2 separate regions of the Homo sapiens genome follow, and region 2 is linked to region 1. A link means that fine-mapping ties the variant in region 1 to the expression of a gene that starts in the linked region. Tissue or cell type: whole blood. Region 1 holds a variant in brackets; the other region holds the start of a gene. All regions are shown on one strand. Distances are between the middles of the regions.

Region 1 (7,858 bases):
TGTGGGAACCCTGGATGCCCTGACCCACTGGAGCTGTGGACATGCCCCCTCCTCCCTGGTTAAAACCTAGGGCTCTGCCCTTGCTTGGGGAAGACACAGAGGCCTCTGCTTTACAAGACAGCACACACACACACACACACACACACACACACACACACACACACAACACCCCACACAAAGGATTAATCCCCACCTCCCCTCCTGGTCACCAGACAACAAGTGGATTTGAGGGGCAACATCACCCGACCAGGGCCTGCAGGGCTGCAGGGGGAGGAAGGGGCCACACGCCGAGCTGTGGAGTCACAGGAACGTGCCAGTGAGGGGGTGCCAGTGTCCCTGAGCTCCGTGGGGTGCATCCTCTTTAGGCCAGGGAAGGTTGGGGGGATGCTATTGCAGAAGGGGGCTCCCAGGCAGAAGTGAAGATGACAGAATCCTGGAATGTTAGAAGCTAGCTATGGCACTTCTCTATCAGCCGCAAGGTGGGCACAAGCATGGCAATGAGTGGCAAGTTGGAAGGGAGCCAGGAAGGCCTTTCCCCCTAAGAACTATGAGGTGGTTAACAGATATGGCACATCTGGGGCAAAACAGACAGGCAGCCAATAGATGTTCCCAATAAAAGTCATGATCTTGGCCGGGCGCAGTGGCTCCTGCCTGTAATCCCAGCACTTTGGGAGGCTGAGACAGAAGAATGGCTTGAGGCTCGGAATTCAAGACCAGCCTGGGCAACATAGTAAGACCCTGTCTCTACAAAACTGTAAAATAAAAATAAAATAAAATAAAATAAAAGTCATGATCTCTTGCCCATCATATGTGATGTAGAGGAAACACATTGTACTAGGAAAAGCTCTGGATTGAGATTCAGAGAATTCAAAGGTGAGAGATGGCAGATCCCTGATGACCTGGCTTTGAAATCAGGCTCTGCCATCTCATGGCTGGGCTATCTTGGGGCCAACACTGAGACTCAGTTTCTTCCTCAGAATGCTGAGTGTCTTAGTCTGTTTTCTGTTGCTTACAATAGAACACCTGAAACTGGGTAGTTTATAAAGAAAAGGAATTTTTTTTTAAGTTATGGAGGCTGAGAAGTCCAAGGTTGAGGGGCTTCATCTGGTGAGGGCCTTCTTGCTAGTGGGAACTCTTTGCAGAGTCCTGAGGTGGTACAGGCCATCTCATGGTGAAGGGGCTGAGCATGCTCGTGTGCTAGCTCAGGTTTGCCTTATAAAGCCACCAGTCCTACTCCTGTGATAACCAATTGATCCATTAATCCTTGGATGGATTAATCCATGTATTAGGGGAAAGCCCTCATGACCCAATCACCTCTTAAATGTCCCACATCTTAATACTGGCACATTGGGGATTAAATTTCGACAGAATTTTGAAAGGGACAAATATCCAAACCATGGCACTGAGATAATATTAACGGCCACTACCCCACCCTTCTTACATGGTGGTTGTGAGCAGCACATCTGGTCATCCATAAGACCACATCATGGACACTCCAGGACAAGGACAGGCCCAGACCTGTCTTTCGACCCCACCAGTTGCTGCTGGCCTAATGCCTGCCAGAATCTAGATTCCAAATGTCATGGGGCCTAGACAGTTCAAGGACACACCTTCCCAGAGACCAAAAGCCCCTTCCACCTTTTTTATTTTTAAGCAAGGGCTACTGGTTGACAGGAACTGATCCCCCAGCACCATGGCCACAGCCCCACCCCTGGCTGCAAGCTCTTGAGTTTTTTGCAAGCGAGAGCTGGGCTGACATCCTGGTTGTTGGTTTTCTTTCCATGTAAATTCAGTTCTTGCCTCCCTTTATCCTTGATGTATGTCTCAGAGAATTCTCCAGGAAGAACAATTTTCTGCCAAGCACTAGAGCAAAATCTGGATTTCACCTAAGATTTTATAGGGAAGGGCAGAGGACTCCTGCAGCCTACCCAGAGGATACCCTCCAGCCTGCCTTGCTCTCTGGTGCCACCAGCAGGCAGGCCCCACTCTGCACTTCCCTCCTTGGCCGTGGTTCACTGCTTGTCCCTGTAACAGGGCTGTGGCCTCAGCCCTGCAAAACCCAAGCAGCAACACACGAGCCTTGGAGGAAACCCTGCTGGCCTCTGCTAAACCAGCAGCTTATTATTGCCAGTTACTTACTGGTGCTAAGTGTGCCCCTGAGGGTCTCATCGCCCACCCAATCTGGTTATCCTGTTCCCACCAGCTTCATAAACGATGTCCCCTAAGAAAAGATTGAGTAAGTACCACTTTCTCCATCTTGGTCTGTTATGGGATCTTTAGGGTGTTGCTTTTCTGGCCAGAAACCTCTGTGGCCAGTGGTACCTTTGCCCGAGTTCTTGTCCTGTGTCCAGGAAGAATGAGGTACACAGACAAGTAGAAGGTAAACAAGATGAAGAGGAGTTTTATTGAGTGTTAGAATAGCTCAGAGGAGACCCACAGTGGGTAGCTCCTCTCTGTGGGAAGGTCGTCCTGTTGAGTGTTCAGTTCTCAGCAGAGAGGAGGCCCTGGAGTGGGCGGTTCCTCTCTGCAGCTGGTTATCCTGTTGTCTGCCGCTATCAGCAGAGATGGTAGCTCCTCTTTGCAGCTAGTCATCCATCCTTTCTGTCATCTCTCTGTCCTCTGTCCTGCTCTGGCTGAGCCTGGGGCTTTTTTGGGCCTCAGAGCAGGGAAGTGCATGCTGATTGGTCCACAGGCAGCCATGCATGGGCCCAGGAGAAAGCACCATGATGTCCCCCTCTGGTCCTCAGAACTGGCAGCCCAGCCCCCAGGCTTTATGCCTGCCCTGGCCTGAAGCTGGGGCTTCACTGGGGACCCTCCCCCTTCTGCCCAGGAGCCTGTCTGCCTCCCGTGGCCATTCATGGCACCCAGGTTGCTGGCACCAAGGGGCACCTGCAGGCCAGTGCCCAGCTGCCCTCAACTCTCCTTCAGCTTCTCCTCCCATGCTCCTCAGTGCCCAAAGTCCAGAGGGGGCTGAAGGGGCAGGGGGCTGGCATGTCAGCACTGCCCCAAGTGTGTGCACACCTGGTTGGGCTGTGAAAGTGCCTGGGCTTGGCCCCACCTCTGCTCTGAGATCAAAGTGGGTGCCAGGAGTGGGGAGAGGCTAGGCAGCAGGACCAGAAACCACTGAGCCTGCAAGGACAAGGGTTCCTTCCCAGGCCCCCTCAAGAGTGCCTTCCCAGGCCCCCCCAAGAGTGCAGGGATGCCTAGGTCTGCAGCCCCAGTTTGGGTGGCTACAGCTGTGCCTGGGGCAGGGGCGGGGCTCCTGCCTGCTCTGCAGAGCGGGATGCCCAGATCTGCAGCCACAATTTGGGCGGCTGCAGCCCCCTCTCAGGAGGGCAGAGCCCCTGCCTACTCAGTGGAGCAGGAGGCCCAAGTCTGCAGCCACAATTTGGGTGGCTGCAGCCCCCCCTCAGGAGCACAGGGCCCCTGCCTGCTCAGTGGAGCGGGAGGCCCAGGTCTGCAGCCACAATTTGGGTGGCTGCAGCCCCCTCTCAGGAGGGCAGAGCCCCTGCCTGCTCAGTGGAGCGGGAGGCCCGGGTCTGCAGCTTTGGGCAGCCGTGCTTAGGGCAGAGTTTGCAGCAGCACCTGGGGAGCTCCCATCCCAACTTGGAAGAGGTGGGGCTCTCACTTGTCTCCAGCTCCCGCTGGTTCCACAGAATGTGCAACCCCAGCTGCACCTCCCTGTTGCAGCTGATGTGATGGCAGCGGCAGGCCGCGTGGCACAGCCACTGCCATCAGTACTAATACAGGTAAAATAGATATGCAGCAAATTAGGTACTTACCATAGTGGGTTGAAGAGTAGCCTGCCCTGCAAATTCATGTCCACTCAGAACTCAGAGGGCAACTTTATTTAGGAATAAGGTCTTTACAGATGTAATTAAGGTGATAATCTTGAGATCAGATTATCTGCATGCGGGGTAGGCCTCAAATCTCATCACTGTTGTCCTTATAAGAGGAGAAGAGGACACAGAGACACAGAGGGAAGGCCGTGTGAAGACAGAGCAGAAGGCAGAGATTGGAGTGCTGCAGCCACCAGCCAAGGAGGGGCGGAGCCACCCAAAGCTGGGAGAGGCAGGAAGGAGCCTCCCCAAGCCTTCCAAGGGAGCACGGCCCAGCCCACAGCTTAGTTTTGGACTTCTGTTCTCCAGAGCTGTGAGATAGTGAGTTTCTGTCATTTTACGCCACCCAGTTTGCAGTTACAGTGGCCCTAAGAAATTAATACCCAGGCACACACAACCAAATCCACAAACAG[G/A]ATGGACAAGGCCCCCTCAGACATCGATGAAAGCTCCGTTTTGGCCCTGACTGGTTTCTCTTCCTCTTCCCTGGTGTGGTTAACCTCACTGACTGGTCCCAGCTTCACCTCCAGCTGTTGGTTACACTCCCTGACCCACACTGTTTCCCAATGGACTGAGGATTTCTAGATTATTCTCCATGGCTGTGAACATTTTCAGAGTTTGCAGTTCATTGTCAGCTAAATGCAGATTGAACTCTGAGTCCGAGATCACACCTGGCAGGTGCTCTCTGCAGAGTCACCCACTCTGAGCGCCGCCCAGGAAGTGTTGGTCTCCAGAATGCTCTGCCTCTCTGCAAGATGAAAAGAGTTTGAAAGACCTTCCCAACATGAGTCAGAGATAGAAGGATGTCCAGGCATCGTCACTCTTGAGTCCTCCCAGTTACTCAGCACCAGTCACACCATGACCACATCCTGGGCTGCTGGACCCAGCTTCCCCTCCCCTCCTATGGCCATCCCACTCCCTCCTCCACTCCTGTCCCCACCTCTCCATCCTTTACCACAGCAGTCTGGAGCAAGGTTTGCTGTGAAACTGTTTCTTTCTGTATGTGGCCAGTAAAAGCACTTTAAAAATTTGTTGAGTTTTAAAAATTGGGTGATTTTTCATTGTAAGTTGTGTGCAGTATTCCATTTGTCATCCCTGAGGAGGGATCAGAATGTCTGGACTGAACACTTGCACGACATTAGATTAGCTCATCATTGGTGCTGTGGCTGAGGCTAGCTCACCATTGATGTGCAAATGAGGCTAGCTCACCCTCAGTGTGTGGATAAGGCTAGCTTACTTCTGGAGCTGTGGATGAAGCTAGTCACCGTTGGAGCCACTGATGAGGCTAGCTCACTGTTGGTGCTGGTGCTGTGGATGAGGCTAGCTCACCATCAATGTACGGATGAGGCTAGCCCACTGTTGGAGCTACAGATGAGGCTAGCTCACTGTGGAAGCTATGGATGAGGCTAGTTCACCATTGCGTGTAGATGAGGCTAGCTCACCCCTGGAGCTTTGGTTGAGGGTAGGTCATCATTGTGTGTGGATAAAGCTAGTTCACTGTGGAAGCTGTGGATGAGGCTAGCTCACCCCTGCACCCATGCCTGAGGCTGGTCACTGTTGGTGCTATGCAGGATTCCATCCTCATGCCATTCTGAAGGGGGCAGATTCTCCCCCTGGAAGCCACCTGCAGGGTGAGGGAGCACTGTCTCCCAGGTGGTTTCCTGGCAGGGACGGCTCCACTCTGCATCCAGCCTGGCTGTGCACCAGCATAGCTCACTGTGTTTCTTTCCTCTAAGATCATCCCCGCAGCTAAAACCCTGTGGCCACTTTTCCTGGGTGCTTTTCCTGCCGGAAGACAGTCCTGTTTAGGACAAACTTGCATTCCTTTGTTCCCAGCTGACTCAATGTTCAAACAATACAATAAAAAAGTGTCTTCCTTAAAAAGAAAAAATTCAAAACCAAACCCAGTCCTAAATTCTCACCAGGGTAACTATACTGGATTCTTTGGCTCCTGAAGCTCCCAAAGACCCTAAGCATGACATCTCCTCCTGGCATGTCCAGGTCTGGTGTCTGCAGGCATCAGTTGGGCCCCTGGAAGGTTCGCTGGAAGTGGTGGCCTTTGGGATGCAGTTGAACGCCTGGGTTGTGAAGATCTCTTTACTGGAGCAACTGGGGCGCACTATCTGTCTGGGGGTGCTGCAAGATGGGATCTTAATAACCACATGCTGCAGGTTGCCAACTGTCCTTCTGGCCTGTGTCCAAGACCAACGTTTCAGAATCTGCCTTGGTCCCGTGGGCCCCACATGCCCACTGCCTGGAAGAGCAGAGGGGACTCCTTTCCTCAGGCATTGCAGGCTTGGTATGCCCTTGGTCCCTGAGGCCACCATGTAAGCAGATGCCCTCACTGACACCCCTTGAACCCTGGAAGGGGGCCCCTGATAAACCCCCCATGGGGCTGTCTTTGAACTTCAGGGCTGCTGGAGCAAAATGACTTCCTGGGAAGCCCGCTGGCCTCGGACGCAGAAACCTGGATCCTGAGTGGGCTTTCTCTGGCGAACAGCTCCGGCTTTGGACAAGTTTATTAACCTCTCTGGCCCTCAGTTAGTCCATCTGAGACAGGGGCAAGGCCCAGGGTTAACCTTCAGGAGAGCCTACAGCTCCAGATTGAGCTGCCTCCTGCTTACAGTTAAAACATTGATGAAAATTTACCAAAACACAAAAACTGGCCAACCACACTAAAACTTGGTAGAAGAGCCAATTACTAAAGTATGGGACAGATGCTGATTCTGCCATCAACAGAAATGTGCTGAGCCGTCATCCCGAGCTGCGCACACTGCAGGCGGCATACTGAGCCGGAGGACGGAGGAGCAGCTCCCACTCACCCCACTGGCTGCTCACCCTGGGAGGCCCCCAGCTGCCCGATGTAGAGCTTCCATCCTCCTCCGGTCCATCAAGGGACCACCGAAGCCTGGACCCTGCTGGGTTGAGCAAAGGAGCTGGGCTTTTCCCTCCTGGTGCGTCACGTGACTTTAGGAAGGGCTGTGAGGCGGGCACCTGGAGGGACAGCTTCCTTTGCAGAAGAATCTCAGCCTCTCCATGACTGCTGGGGAGACCAAAGTCCCCAGCTTGGGAGCAGGCAAGATCTCACCTCCCAGATGCCAGGCCAGGGCTCTGCCGCCAGCCCTTGCTCTGGCGTAGATGGTGGAGCTTGCACACAGCGGGACCCGCCCCTGCAGAATGAAGGCAGCCCCAGAAAGAAAGGGCGAGGACACCATCTAAATTCCTCCCTGGACAACAAAGATCACAAGCAAAGCTCTGTGAACTGGGCAGGGCAGGGAGGCTCCATCAGTGTTTGCTGAGTGAATGAATGCAGGAAAAGAAACTTAAATCCTGAGAGGGAAGAACAAACCTGATAAAGCATCTCAAATGAGCAAGAGAACAGAGATTAAAATGACAAGAAAACCATTTGCTCAAATAATAGGAAATAAAGATACACATTAAAAATAAGAATTGACAAATAAGAGACCAGACCCTGTGAAACTTCTTAAACATCATTGGAGAGCACTTTCACAATTACCAAGGCTGTGTGAATTTTCTTCTTGATTGTTCCTTTACTGCTGATTTTTTGTTTTAATGAGTTATGGTGAAATATGTTGCTATAAAGTCTATCTTTTGGACTTAATTAAAGCTTCTTTTCCCGTGGTATGGGAATTTTTTTGGTAAGCATTCTATGAATGCTTAAAAAGAAAATTTAGAGACGAAGTTAAATATCTGCTAATCAAGCATAATGCTGAGTATAATTTATTGAAGGTTTATTTGGTGCCAGGAAGATGATGTTCGCACCCATTTGTTCAAGACAACATTTGAGCACCTGCGTTGTGCCAGGCATGCAGCAGTGAATCACAAGGGTGATATTCTTTGCCTTTCTGAAGCTGCTATTCAATAGGGCTGTTCTTACGGATCTTCTCAGTTAACTCCATGAACTTAACACCTTGGACGGAGACTTAGGTTAAGAAACTTGTCCAGTGACACACTCAAAATCAAGGGCAAAAGTGGATTTAAAACCAGGCCTTCTATCTGGT
Region 2 (7,858 bases), 100 kb before region 1:
AATTCAAAATGAAGGCACCAAGACTAGTTTGATGGAAAAGTGTCAGTGGAGCGCTGTGTTAGTGTAAGACTGCTACTGCGCCAATGCTATTTGCTTTGCAAATAAGGAAGTGCTGTTTGGGAGATGCTGTTACCAACCCCCGGATCAATGTCATTGATTCATTAATCTGTTGGATTGATTCTGTCACACAAATATGGGCTGCTCTGTCATCTGCTCTCAGTTCACTAAATTCAAGTGGAGGTAACAACCCACCATGTCACTGGGAATGGAAACTAGACCTTTAACGATATCTTGGTTTTTGTCTCTTGCTCCAACAAGAACTTCATAGAGTTAAACTACAAAAGGATCTGCTGAAGAGCTCAGGTGGGTTCACCCGTGCAGGCATTTTGACAAAAGGTAGCGACAACAGCATTCAAATGTATAAATTCATTGCTTTATTTAGCTCCTGAGAGTTTACTAAATTTTTTTCACATCTGAGCAAGTACACAGTTTCTTATCCTAAGAAAGCCCAGGGGCTGTATAATTGCGTCGTATTCTTTTTTCTTTCTTTTCTTTCTTTTTTTTTTTTTTTGACACAGTCTTGCTCTATCGTCCAGGCTGGAGTGCAGTGGCATGATCTTGGCTCACTGCAACCTCCGCCTCCTGGGTTCAAGCGATTATCCTGCCTCAGCCTCCCGAGTAGCTGAAATTACAGGCATGCACCACCACACCCAGCTAATTTTTGTATTTTTAGTACAAATGGGCTTTCACTATGTTGGCCAGGCTGGTCTCGACCTCCCAACCTCAGGTGATCCACCTGCCTTGGCCTCCCAAAGAGTTGGGGGATTACAGGCGCGAGCCACCGTGCCTGGCTGCTATTCTTGAAGACTATCCCCAGGTGACAATCCCTGCAGTGTCATTCTACTGCAGCAAGATTAAAGCCAATCTAATAGCTGGCAAATTTGCTGTGAAAACATATCACCTTCTGTTACTTGCTGCCCTAAGGAAAATGTGCAATAGAAGAATCTTTCAGAACACCAGTTCATTTTTTTTTAAAAAACACAAAGTCACATGAAACAAAGCACACTTTTTTACATATATGAAAGGAAGCATTCACAGGATTTTCCATACTCAGTAATGAATAAGTACCCCAAGAACTGTATTTACTTCTGTGAATCTTTGTTGCGTGATATTTTACTGAAGTCCAAGTGAGCCTGGGTGGTCCTGCAAAGAGTATTCACACAGAGATATATTGTATTACTTATGCTATTAATAAATTGGCTTTATTAGCCTTATCACTGACTTAATTTTTGAAAGAAAAACTCAAACTAAATCAATAACCTGAGTATTATTTCCCAAATTGATGACATTTTCATTTGGGTTTTAATTCAGCAAATTCCCCTCCTCAAAAGAGGGGAATGCTGTCACTTCCCCAGCCAACATACAGGTGACATTGGAAACGCTGCTAAATGCCACTGTGCCTTAGCTTCTCCTATGTATGCAAGGGGTCACTGCCCAGGTAATGACTCTGAGGGGCTGGCAATACAGCATAAGAAAGTCACTCCAAATTCTGTTAAGCAAGGTTTTCCGCAGGCAGCCGTCAGTATCACAGCCTCCAGTACTATAATCATTGTTAAAGCATTTTAAAATAGACAAGACACGCCATGAAGAAAGTGCATCCAGACGGTTGAACTGGGCTGCTGGTTATGATAGCTCCAGGGCGCCCCGGGGGGTCGCAGGTGAAATCCTCCAGGTCCATCTCCCCAGGCAGAGGTGAGCCTGCAATCCAGCTTGCGCTGCCCTTCCAGGGCGTCCCCGGGGCCTCTGGTCTTCAGGGCTGGGCTGAGCCCTGGGCTGCTCAGGACCAAAGCTGAGCTGTTTTTCTTTCAAACTAAACTATGAACTCTCTCTGCTGGAGAAAGAGACAGAAAGGACAGAGAAAGAGACACGCCGACAGAGCCAGAGTGACACAGGGGCACGCAGACAGGGAGACGAGGATGGCGAAGCAGGCTACCAGGCAGGTCCTCTCCTCAGTAAAAGCCCTCCGCATCTGGGAAAGGGAAGATGTCCCTGGATCTGGGTCCTTGGACCCACACAGGGTTGGTAAAAGGGCAGCAAATCGCTACTGTCACTGCTCTGAGCAAAGAAACCAGGGAAAGGCCAGTTCGGGAAAAACAGGCCCTTTCCATCTGACGTGAAGCCCCAGGAAGGGCTGCAGCCCAGCACCGGCAGGACGGCTGGGGACCTGGCTTCTCTCTCTCTCTCTCTCTCGTTCCTTAAATTTTTATTTGAGAATTTTAAAGAAAGGGACCTGGAAAGCTATTTTGTTGGGCTAGAGGGGCCGTGGGCCTTCCCAGCGCGGAGGAAGGAGGGCGGTCAGGCCGGGTGGGGCTGGGTGCGGTGGCTCTGCAGAACCTTTAGGCACCGAACTGAAGCCGCGGGTCCGGTGCGCGGACACTGCGCAGGGCGCTGCTACCGACTCACATGCATGCGAGGGCCCGCTCCTAGGCGTTCTGCCTTCCTGGACGGATTGTTGGTAAAACGTCCCCTAGAACGGCCGGAGCCAGGGCCCTCGGACAGGGGCGCGAAGGGCCCGCTCTTTGCCGTCCTCGGGTTTCCCAACGCGGTGGTCGTGGCCCGCGGGCCCCACCTCGCGGCCCGCCTGGCCGGCCGGAGGAGCAGCGGAGGCCGAGCACTCCCCGGTCTCGGGTTCAACTTCAATAAAAGGGCCCAGCCCGCCCTTGATCACGCGGCTTGCCTGACAGCCCGGCTCAGGCCCGGGCCTAATTGAGCCCGGGTCACCTGGGAATAGGTTCAAAGGCATCAAAGCCGTAAAAACCACCTCCAGGCCCAGAGCCAGAGCGGCCTGGCGAACAAAGAGCCCCCCAACCACTTCAAACGCGCTCGCGCTCGCCGTCCAGATGGCCCGGGGCCGGGGTCCGTGGTGTCGCTCACCGAGGCCGGGCCCCACACTCCAGCCACCCTGAGCCTCCTGCTCGGAGCTGCCCGCGGGCTGCCAGCGCAGCGGAGGCTGGGCCCGGGGCAGCCTCGTGCAGCTCCCGGAGCGCCCTCCGTCCTCTGCTGACCCGCGAAGCGAAGGCGGAGCGCAGAGGCTGGGGCCGTACAAGGCGGGCCGGCAGGCGCCCCAACCCGCGCCCAGCAACCCGGGTAGGGCCAGGCAGGCGGGCGCGGCGGGTACCGGGCGCTCCCGCAGAGGCTCGCTGTGGCGTTGTTTTAAAGCTGTTAGAAGGAAGGTTCGGGAAGGGCGTCGGGGCCGGGGCTCCCCAGCAAGCCAGGGTAAGAAATGGTCCCCGACACGCACGCTGGCCGAAGGGTGGCATCTCCACGGATCTTGGCGGCATGTCCTTGGGCACGGGCGTCTCCAGGGGGCCCCGACTGTCCTTACACTGGCGGTCCGGACACCGAGACCCCTGCCCGCGCAGCTCCCCAGACCCCAGGCCTAAGCTTGCGGGCCGCGGTGCAGACTAGCTGTGCGCCCGGGGGCGGCCAAGACCCACACAGGTCGAGGAGGCTCCTGGCTGCGTCCTCATCTTCTGGGAGCGCATCTGGGACTGGACTCGCCTCTCTAGCCCCTCACGCCCAGAGAGAGAACCCCCCAAAGCCCAGTGGGGGCCGATCTCTACGTTGAGGCGTAGACAAAGCCAGGCTTGGCCGGGCCTAGGGCTCGGGGCGGCCTGAGAGTGCCCTGCGTTCGGGGTGGGGGCGCGGGCGGCGGGCGAGGACCCGGCCCCCGGGATGCCCTCCGCGCCGGGGCCGAAGGGGGAGGCAAAACTGAAAGTGCCGCGCCGGGGGGCGGGGGCGGCCGGCGAAGGCCCCAGAACTTGTCCTGCCCCCGGCCACCGCGGCCAATCAGCGCGCCGCCCTAGCTCCTGACAACTATTTAGCAACCCAGCCCAGCTAGAGTTTCCAAAAAAGTTAGAATAACTTCCTCTCCCGGAGACCTCGGTTTTGCACAAGCCGGCCTTGAAATCAGAGCCTTTCCAGCAACTCCGAGAGCGTGTGCTCGGCGACCGCGGGCTTGGCCAGCGGCGCGCGCTCGGCGCCCCGGCGCCCCCAGCCCCACGCGCGCCGGGCGGGCGCCATGGAGGAGGGCTCCAGCTCGCCCGTGTCCCCCGTGGACAGCCTGGGCACCAGCGAGGAGGAGCTCGAGAGGCAGCCCAAGCGCTTCGGCCGGAAGCGGCGCTACAGCAAGAAGTCGAGCGAAGATGGCAGCCCGACCCCGGGCAAGCGCGGCAAGAAGGGCAGCCCCAGCGCGCAGTCCTTCGAGGAGCTGCAGAGCCAGCGCATCCTGGCCAACGTGCGCGAGCGCCAGCGCACCCAGTCGCTCAACGAGGCCTTCGCGGCGCTGCGCAAGATCATCCCCACGCTGCCCTCTGACAAGCTGAGCAAGATCCAGACGCTCAAGCTGGCCGCCAGGTACATAGACTTCCTCTACCAGGTCCTGCAGAGCGACGAGATGGACAATAAGATGACCAGCTGCAGCTACGTGGCCCACGAGCGCCTCAGCTACGCCTTCTCCGTGTGGCGCATGGAGGGCGCGTGGTCCATGTCCGCCTCCCACTAGCGCCGCGCCACCCACCTCCGGACCGGCGCGCCAGGGTAGGTGCTGCGCGCGCGACGGGCGCCCTCCGCTGCGGGGGGCGGGCGGCAGGGGCGCAGGGGCATTGGGGCCTGCTCGTGTCTCCTCGGCGAGGCCCCGCGGGCCGCGGGGGCTTGGATGCCGTGCGCTTTTCCTCTTAGCAAGGAAGGCGGGCGGGCGGGACGCTCACAGTCCCAGGGACACCCCTGAGTGCAGACTTCCACGCGAGGGTGTCAGTTGGGAACCGGCGGACCGGTGACTCCCCCGGCGGGTTCTGAAGATACTTAGACAGATGGTCGCAGTTTTCATTCTCGGTGGTGTGTGGGTGTCCGTGGTTGGCGGTGGAAGGAGCGAGCATCAGAAAAACCTCCTGGGGCCGGCTGGGGACTGGGATATGAGGACCAGCTGCCCTTTGCGTCCGCCGCAGCGCAGGCCGCCCGCGAAGCTGCCCGAGCCGGGTGTTGCCGGGCGAATGGCTTCGCTTTCTTCCTGGGCAAGGGTAGAGCGCGTCCGTCGGGCGGACACTCAGATCTACCCAGCTGCTCGCGCCTGGGGTCCCCGGCCGTCGGCGCCCTGGCCTGCCCAGTGGGCGTAGAGGTGCGGGCCTGCGGCTCCAGGGTTTGCCTGGGGAGGACGGGAGGAAACTGCCCTGCGCTTCGGGGCCAGAGCAGCCACAGGGCCGGGTGTGCCCGAGAAGGGCCCTGGGCCGAGAGCGCAGAGCCTGGAGCGCTGAGGCAGGCGGGTCCGACGCAGCCGCGCGGAGCCCCAGGGCGCCCGCAGGCAGGTGGAGCTGACCTAGGAACTGGGAGCCCTGAGTCCCAACCTTGACCCTGGAGTACCCGGGAGGGGCCCCGCCCATCCAGCCCCGCAGGGATGGGCGAGGGGTCCAGGCTGGGAAACGGGTCTGGGGGACAGGGAGGCTGTGCGCGCCGGGCCCTGCGCGAGGAGAAGGCTCGGGGGACACAGCTGCCAGGAGCACTCCAAGTTCTGGTTTCCTCTGGAAGAGCGATTAGGGCGTCCTGCACCGGGTCCTTTTCACCAGACACCTTCCAAGTCCCTTTAGACAAGCTCGAGCCACGGAGGCGCCGTCCTTAGGCTCTGTGAGCAGGCGAGCCCCTCTCTCATCCGCCATCCAGGGCCATGGAGGGGCACAGAGTTCTTTTTGCTGGGGCCGAGTTAAAAATCCTTCCCCCTTAGTATGTTTTAGTTCCTCGCACATCTTGCGATGTTTTTATAAAAGACTCTACTTCACACAGAAGGAATTTAGATTAATCAAGAGCACCCGGCCGCCTATTCTCCCAAACATATCTATTTCTTTTTTTATGTGGTTCTATAATATCTGCGAATGTTGTTGCTGAGGCCACGAAAAGCTGATCCAGCACAGGTGGGTTTTATTTCATTTTTTTAGCTTTTATTTTGGTGTCACTGAAAATTCTGTAGCTGCAGAGCCTCCTGAGATAATGATAATTGTATAGTTTTTAAAAAATAATTTTCAGCAGAAAATAACTTGTGGGAATCTTCTCCTGTCTTTGTCAAAAACAGATGGAAAGTGTCTCAATCACATATTTCTCTAGGAAAGTTTGGATTGGCTGAGTACTAAACGCTACAGTGGGGTAATACATTAATTCTGGTTTTTGCTGCCTAAATAATGAGCTTCCATTAGTTACTTCCATTTATGCTTTACCTCATTCATGGTTTATAGCACATCTGAAATAAGAACAAACAGATGAGGAATGTCATCTTTTTAAAAACACACACATTGAGCCGTGTTTAAGGAAAATGTCACTTTAATTATCGTTAAGACTGCCCTCCAGAAAATTACTGAAAACAAATACCAGTAGATATGATGCTGCTAGAATTTAGTAGGAACATTTAAAATTCATTTAAAAATAATCGCACTCCTCAAAACTTAGAGAATCAGCCATAGGTAACCATTAAAGATTATAGAAAAATAAAATGCAATACATGTAATAAATAAATAAAAACAGTGCCAAGAGCTTGTTTGGAAAAAAGCCCTTGAAAATATAATAGATAATTACACAGTTAGTGGGAGAGCTGATGATCTATAAGGAGCCTATTTATTTTTATTTTTACATACTGGACTATAACTGAGTAGTTCAAACAAGCTAGTTTCATTAAATAGATACTCTAAAAGAAGAGAAAAGAAATATGGAAAAATTTTATCCATGAATGATTCTGGACACACCTTGTTTTTATTTATCAGGCACGTTAGGCAGACATCTTGTCATTCTTTTTGTCTTTAACTCATTATTCCCTATAAGATCAATACGATTATAATTGGTTTGATTTCCTGAAAATGTTGCTAAACAGCATTTGTTTTTATTTGTAGCATTTCTAAGAAGCATTAATTATATGCATCAGCAAAGAATCTCTAGACATTTCAGTACATTGTAAGTGATTTTAATGTTTGATGTGGGATGTTTTCACGTATGTGAAGAAAACTGTCAAGACTAACAGCAACAGCAGCACAAAGCCTAAATTGTCCTCTGAAAGGAAGAGAAACGCAAGAGATGGTGGAGTGCGGGTGCTGCCGATATCTATCCTGCCTTTCTTCTTTGGCCTGGTATTTAAAAGCACAATTAGACAATAAATCAGGTGTCTTTGTCCAGTCAGTTGGATTCATCTAATAGAAAAATCTCAAAAGGATTTTTTTAGTATTCTCATTAAATGCCTGAGTCTTCGGAGCAGGGTCCCAGACACCTGGCTTGGAGGGTGGGGGAAGGTGACCATTACTTATCAGACATTTGTCCTGTTCCCTGCTGTGTGGTTAAAGAAAACATCTTCTCTAACTTCTGCATAGTGTGCACAGATTTTCAGTAGATTTCCTCACTCAACAAACTTTTTTTTTTCTGAGAACTTTTAGCTACTTTGAAGAAATTGCATGACCCCTTCACCATCTAATATATGTGAGCCTTTTCCTCCCTCCTGAAAATTTACTTCTCATAGGTGTTTGTTAACTGCTGTATTCAGGATGCTAGAAAATCAGTTCTTCGTGGAGAAGAACAGAAATGCAGAATCCCAATGGAGCTTTTGCTTGCCTAGAAGAAGTAGAATGAAAGGCTGAGCTCCCTGGAATATAAGCAATGTTTGGTTACAAAATACCCATCAATAAGATCTGATGTAGGGATTTGACCTGTTAATGTGGGTCTTTCCCCTTAAATATCAGCAGTCCTTTCGGCCTTGCATCAGGGAAGTCTTGCTACTCATCTTGCTGGAGAGGGAATTCCTCAGACTTCAGTGGCTCTTTGAGGCCATTTG

The links. PIP is the estimated chance that this variant, and not a neighbour inherited with it, causes the effect.
Region 2: TWIST2 starts here. The variant in region 1 is fine-mapped to the expression of TWIST2 in whole blood (TOPMed, PIP above 0.99). The same link has a PIP of 0.9 or more in blood mononuclear cells.

The regions. Positions count from the first base shown.
Region 1 is chr2:238,943,949-238,951,806 of GRCh38, forward strand. No RefSeq gene overlaps it. Among named protein-coding and RNA genes, the nearest start is that of LINC01940, 22 kb to the left of the region's middle. The variant G/A (reference allele first, on the strand shown) is at 4,253.
Region 2 is chr2:238,844,135-238,851,992 of GRCh38, forward strand. TWIST2 (twist family bHLH transcription factor 2) reads left to right here and starts at 3,951. Exons shown (of 2, transcript NM_001271893.4): 1 at 3,951-4,599. The coding sequence starts at 4,082. The coding sequence ends at 4,564. It overlaps LOC100287387 (a long non-coding RNA gene), which reads right to left and starts at 3,773. Exons shown (of 1, transcript NR_157851.1): 1 at 412-3,773. RefSeq lists enhancers at 1,887-2,397, 2,398-2,908, 4,442-4,951, 4,952-5,462.